2 separate regions of the Homo sapiens genome follow, and region 1 is linked to region 2. Evidence: fine-mapped expression QTL. A gene starts in region 2. The other region holds a variant in brackets. All regions are shown on one strand. Distances are from middle to middle.

The links. PIP is the estimated chance that this variant, and not a neighbour inherited with it, causes the effect. A credible set is the group of variants that fine-mapping cannot tell apart.
Region 1: its variant is the best candidate, but not a certain one, in a credible set for the expression of MMP11 in whole blood (TOPMed, PIP 0.62).

What each region holds. Positions count from the first base shown.
Region 1 is chr22:23,843,265-23,846,009 of GRCh38, reverse strand. No RefSeq gene overlaps it. Among named protein-coding and RNA genes, the nearest start is that of DERL3, 5.6 kb to the right of the region's middle. RefSeq lists an enhancer at 1,135-1,628. The variant A/G (reference allele first, on the strand shown) is at 1,388.
Region 2 is chr22:23,771,134-23,774,141 of GRCh38, reverse strand. MMP11 (matrix metallopeptidase 11) reads right to left here and starts at 1,293. Exons shown (of 8, transcript NM_005940.5): 1 at 1,164-1,293. The coding sequence starts at 1,271. It overlaps LOC107985577 (a long non-coding RNA gene), which reads right to left. Exons shown (of 3, transcript XR_007068022.1): 2 at 2,835-2,955; 3 at 1,765-2,273.

The DNA.
Region 1 (2,745 bases), 72 kb before region 2:
TTTGTCCCTGCCTAGCACATCCCCTCCTCCTCCTGTCCTCATCAGGAGCTCTCCTGCCCCACGGCTGCCCTGGACCACTCACCAGTGCATTTCCACTCCCTGCTTGGTATGGGATTCAGTGTCTCCTCCCCTGGCCAGAAGCTGAGCTCCTGCAGGAAAAAGGCACCCACAGCGACTCCCTCCCCAGCCCTGCAGGCCTCTCTGGCTGTTCCTGACCATAGGCCCATGAAGGCTCCTGGCTGAGAGGAGACAGCGAGGAACAGATCCGGCAGAGAGGACTGGCAGGGGCCCTCCAGCTTCCTCTGTTGGTGCATTCTTGCTCATAAGCATTCACTTATTCATAGCAGAGATGGGCCTTGGATGGGGAGGCCAGCTGTGTTTGTTACAGGAAGGGGCTTCCACCCAGAAATCTCTGATACCCCCATTATAGATCAGAGTACAACCTTGGAGCTGAAAGAGACTCTACACATGGACCCTTCTGACCCGCATCTCACAGAGAGGGACACAGAGCCAGAGAGGGAAGGGAGTGCTCAGGTCACAATGCCAGCCCCGAGGCTGCATTTCCAGCCCTGGAGTCCAGGTCTCTGTCTTCACAAGTTTCCCTGTTTTTCCCTGTTTACCAAGCCCCTGCCTGTGCCAGCTCCGCAGCAGAAACCAGGCCTAGAGGGGCCATTGTGTGGACAACTGCAGCCCTTCTGCATGAAGCAGGAATGACCAGGGCCACGGAAGGGAAGGAGCTGGGAGGACTGGGCTAGAGGCCAGGGAGGGCTTCCACCCCACAGCACCCCAAGCTCACCTGCCTGACTCAACGAGTGGTCTCCCTCCCTTACTGGCCATTCACCCATGTCTCCACCCAGTGGGGGCTCACTGTCCCCCAAGCTGGGTAGGCCAGGACCCCTCCTACCTTCACCCCCACTACCAAGCATTCACTAAGGCCTGTGGCTTCAGCCATCCTAACCCTTCCACTCCCTCGCTGTTAATGCAAGCCACTGCAGGCCACCGCTCTCCTCCCCGGCTCATCTGATTAGGACAGAGACCACGGCCGACACACCTCTGCCTGGCCTGGCCCCGCTTCTCCCTCCCGTCACAAGCAACTCTTCTTCCTTGCCTCCTTCACCTTCTCTCCTCTGCTCCCTTCCTCTCCCCCAGTTACCTCAGGGCCTTTGCACAGGCCCTTCCCCTATCCTGGCCTAGCTAGTGCAACCCATCCTCTGCCCCATTCTGCTTCCTCCCTCCCCATCCCACCCAGAGACCAGCTTATTCCTGGAAAGTCCAGATTCTGCTACCAGGTTCAGAGGGCCAGGCCCAGGCCGCTCCCTCTGCAGCCTGACACAACCCACCTGGATGGTTTGTTGTTCTTGCGCTCCGGCCACAAGCAGCTGCTGCT[A/G]TGTGGGTTCCGGATTCAGTGCTAAAAATAGCCTGTGGCCCAGACAGGAAGGGCCAAGGGGGACACAGCTGTTTCTGGGAGGGGCTAGCTGGAAGCCTACTCACAGCAATTGCAGGGGTCCCTGTGCTCAAAGGGGGTGGGCCCCGTGCTCAAAGAGGGGAGAGGTCCCCCAATGGACAAGTGCTCAGGGCCCAAAAGGCACTATGTGTCATCAAGAAGAAAATACAGCTGCACCAGCAGGTACACAAACGTTCAGTTTGTTTGATTCTTGTGGTTAGTTACAACAGGCATGGACTGCCTTTAGAATAAAATATATTTAAAAATTAAGTGCTCAGGACTCTAACAGAAGTAGGTGAGCTCTGGTCCCTTTGAAGGTGACCAGGGAGGGCTTCCTGGAGTAGGAGGCACTTTCACCCTCTGCTCTTCCTCTCTTATTTTTTTAATTTTATTTATTTTGCTTTTAAGAAACATATTTATTTTATTATTTTATTATTTTTGAGACAGAGTCTTGTTCTGTCGCCCAGGCTGGAGTGCAGTGGCACGATCTTGGCTCACCGCAACATCCGCCCCCGGGGTTCAGGTGATTCTCGTGCCTCAGCCTCCTGAGTAGCTGGGATTACAGGTGCATACCACCTTGCTTGGCTAATTTTTGTATCTTTAATAGAGACAGGGTTTCACCATGTTGGCCAGGCTGGTCTCCAACTCCTGACCTCAGGTGATCCACCGGCCTTGGCCTCCCAGGGTTCTGAGATTACAGGCATGAGCCAATGTGCCCAGCCAGGAAACATTTTTTAAAAAATATTTTTAAGAGTCGGGGTCTCACTCTGTCACCCAGGCTGGAGTGCAGTGGTGCAATCTCTGCTCACTGCAGCCTTGACCTCCCAGGCTCAAGCGATCCTCCAGCCTCAGCCCCCTGGCTCTCTCCCCCTTCCCACTTGGGGCTACAGGCATGCACCAGCACGTCTGGCTAATTTCTGTATTTTTTGTAGAGATGGGGTTTCTGTATGTTGCCCAGGCTGGTGTTGAACTCCTGAGCTCAGGCAATCCGCCTTCCTCAGCCTCCCAAAGTGCTAGGACTACAGGCGTGAGCCGCCACACCCAGCCTTACTCTTTTTTTTTTTTTTTTTTTTAACAGAATGAATAGTTCAGAGAGCTGGGACAATATTAGAGGAGAGAACCTGAGGCCTGAATAAGAGTTAGTGGTGGTGGTAAGGCATAGGAGAGAAGGGAAAGGACTAGAGAGTTCCATGGGAGCATCAAGTGTGACATAGGGGGCCGGGCGTGGTGGCTCACGCCTGTAATCCCAGCACTTTGGGAGTCCAAGGGAGGATTGCTTGAGGACAGGGGTTTGCGACCAG
Region 2 (3,008 bases):
ACATGGTTCAAACCCAGATCTCTCCAATTTCCAGACCTGTGGTTCAATGTCTACCCACAGTGATTCCTGACTCTGTCCCAAGTCCTAGGAACCAAGAGGGGCTGGGAAGGAGGCAAGACTCCAGACTGAGATGCCCCCCATTCACTCTACCCCACCCATCCCATCCCTTTCTGCTCCCATAGCCAGCACAGGACAAGGCTGCCCTGAGCAGAGCCAGAGTGGCTGGACAGAGGGTCCCAGCCTGGCCAGGCCTGCCTCCTCACCAGGCCAGTCCTGAGACTCCTGCCTGTCACACCCTCCTGCTCCCTTCCCTGCCCGAGCTGTCTGGATGCCTCCGCTGTGGAGTGGAGTGGCCCAGGCTCTGGCCCCAGGCCCTGTGACTGGTGCCTGGAAGCGCCCCAGGGAAGGGGCAGCTTTTGGGACACATGCAAGCTGTCACACACACTCCATGACAGTCCCTCCTCTCCTCACTCTGCTGTCCTCTCTTACCTGGGCTTTCTTCTCCTCTCCTGAGCACACATTTTCTCCCTTTCCTTTCTCTCCCCGCTTCTTTCTGACAGCCACCTCTCAGTCACACACACACTGCACTCATACTATTTCATACTCATGTTCTCCTGGCTCCAAGCCTCCCAAAACTGCTGCCGGCAGGTGCCCGCGGGGGACATCTCCAGGCTTAGACCCCATTTCCCGCAGCACAGCGCTGCCCTCCCTTCTCCCTTTATCCTTCATCCCACCGCACACCTGGAGGTGTACTAACTGCGGCCACACACCTGCAGGCTGACACCTGCCTGGGATCTGCTCGGCTTTGTCCCTGCGATGAATAGGGGGCCCTGTTACCACTCCCTCTGCTGCTTCCTTCAACGCACACTCCAGCACCCGCGGCTGGAGCGCGAGAGGCAGGTCCCCACGCTGGGAGCAAGCGTGAGTCCAGCGTGGAGTCCCGTCCCACCAGCCCGAACGATGCCGGCGCCGGCTCCCCTTCACACCCCCAGGGACTGCAAGCTCGCTGTCTATCACGCCTAGAGGGAACCAGAAAGCGTTTCGGGTACCGGGCGCTGGAGGCCACCCGGGGCGCCCCCTTCGGTCCGGATCCGCCGCTGGGCCCAGCCCGCGTGCCCGGCGCCCCCTCAGCGAGGAGCGGCCGGCGAGTGGCGGGCACTCACCGGCGGCAGAGCCCGGGCCAGCAGCGGCGGCGGCTGGAGCAGCAGCAGCAGCATCGGGGGCAGGAGGGCGCGCGCGGCCGCGCTGCGGAGCCAGGCGGCCGGAGCCATCCGCCCCGGGGCTGCTGGGCTTGCTGGGCCGCTCCGGGCCGCCGCCCCTTATAGCTTCCGCCCCACCCCCGGCCCGCCTCGGCCCCGCCCCCCGCCGCCTTTTGTTCTGAACTCTCCTAGCAGCCGCGGCCCGGGTGGGGGAGGTGAACGGGGAGGGTACGGCCCAGCGGGGTCGAGGGCCGGAGACAGGGTCCTGCCCCGGGGCTGGCAAAGTCCCTATCTGGTGCTGGGTGACCCTGGCCAACCCGTGCCGCTCTGGGTCTCAGTTTCTCCTCTGGGTGGTGGCCGTCCAAAGTCTTAGACTTGGCTAGAGTCTGAGAGGAGTCAGGTTTCATGGGTCCCATCCGTACCCCCACCTTTGGAAGGCGCATCCCACTGGGTCTCCTTGGTGGCCTGACCTCTGACCTCTGACAGGTGGTCCTACCCACAAGCAAGTTCCCCCACCCCTCAGAGCCTCAACGGATCCTTCTAGAAGATGACACAATAGCCCCTGTGAGGAAAGGGATATTATTTTATTTTTTATTATTATTATTTTTTGAGACACAGTCTCACTCTGTCTCCCAGGCAGGAGTGCAGTGGTGTGATCTCCACTCACTGCAACCTCCGCCTCCCAGGTTCAAACGATTCTGCTACCTCAGCCTCCCAAGTAGCTGGGACCACAGACGTGCGCCACCATGCCTGGCTAATTTTTGTATTTTTAGTAGAGATGGGGTTTCACCATGTTGGCCAGGCTGGTCTCGAACTCCTGACCTCAAGTGATCTGCCCACCTTGGCCTCCCAAAGTGCTGGGATTACATGGGGAAGCCATTGCACCTGGCCAGGAAAGGGATATTAAAATGTGTCCCAGGGGAAAGTGAGGCATATGGCAGGGACTGGCCAGTTCTTCAGCTTGGGATAGACCGAAGTTTACAGATAGGGAAACTGAGGCTCCAAGAGGGAGGGTCCAGGCTTTTCCACACCAGCAGACAAGTGGAGGGGTCAGGAGGTCCTCTAGCTGGTCAGCTGTGGGAAGGATGCTGTCAGAAGGCTGTGGGAGGTGTCTGAGTGGAGTACTGGGCCCCCAGGGTGTCCCCTCGTCAGTGCCCAACAAGCCCCTGGGGACCCCTCCAGGCTAGCCACCTCAGACTTGAAAGAAAGGAGGCGAGAGGCCGGGCGCAGTGGCTCATGCCTGTAATCCCAGCACTTTGGGAGGCCGAGGCAGGTGGATCACGAGGTCAGGAGTTGGAGAGCAGCCTGACCAACATGGTGAAACCCTGTCTCTACTAAAAATACAAAAATTAGCCAGGTGTGGTGGCACACACCTGTAAGCCCAGCTACTCAGGAGGCTGAAGCAGGAGAATCACTTGAACCCGGGAGGCGGAGGTTGCAGTGAGCCGAGATTGTTCCATTGCACTCCAGCCTGGGTGACAGAGCGAGACTCCATCTCAAAAAAAAGAAGGAAAGGAGGTGAGACTCAAAGGAGGGGTTGTGTCCACATTCTGGAAGGGATCCTTCAGTCTCATCCCTGATTTTCGGGGTTACCCAGTACTGCTGTACACCCCCTGAAATGATGAAGGGCCTCACCACCTCACCAGGCGACCTGTTCCATCATGGGTGGCCCTGCAGAGCCACGATCCAGGCAGTGGCTCGCATCCTGGCAGGCAGGGCTCTGAGCTGCTCAAAGGTGAGGCTGTGGTCAGGAAGCCTGGGCCAAGAAAGGGAAGCGGGTGGGGAAATGTTTCACAGCTTATTCAAGAA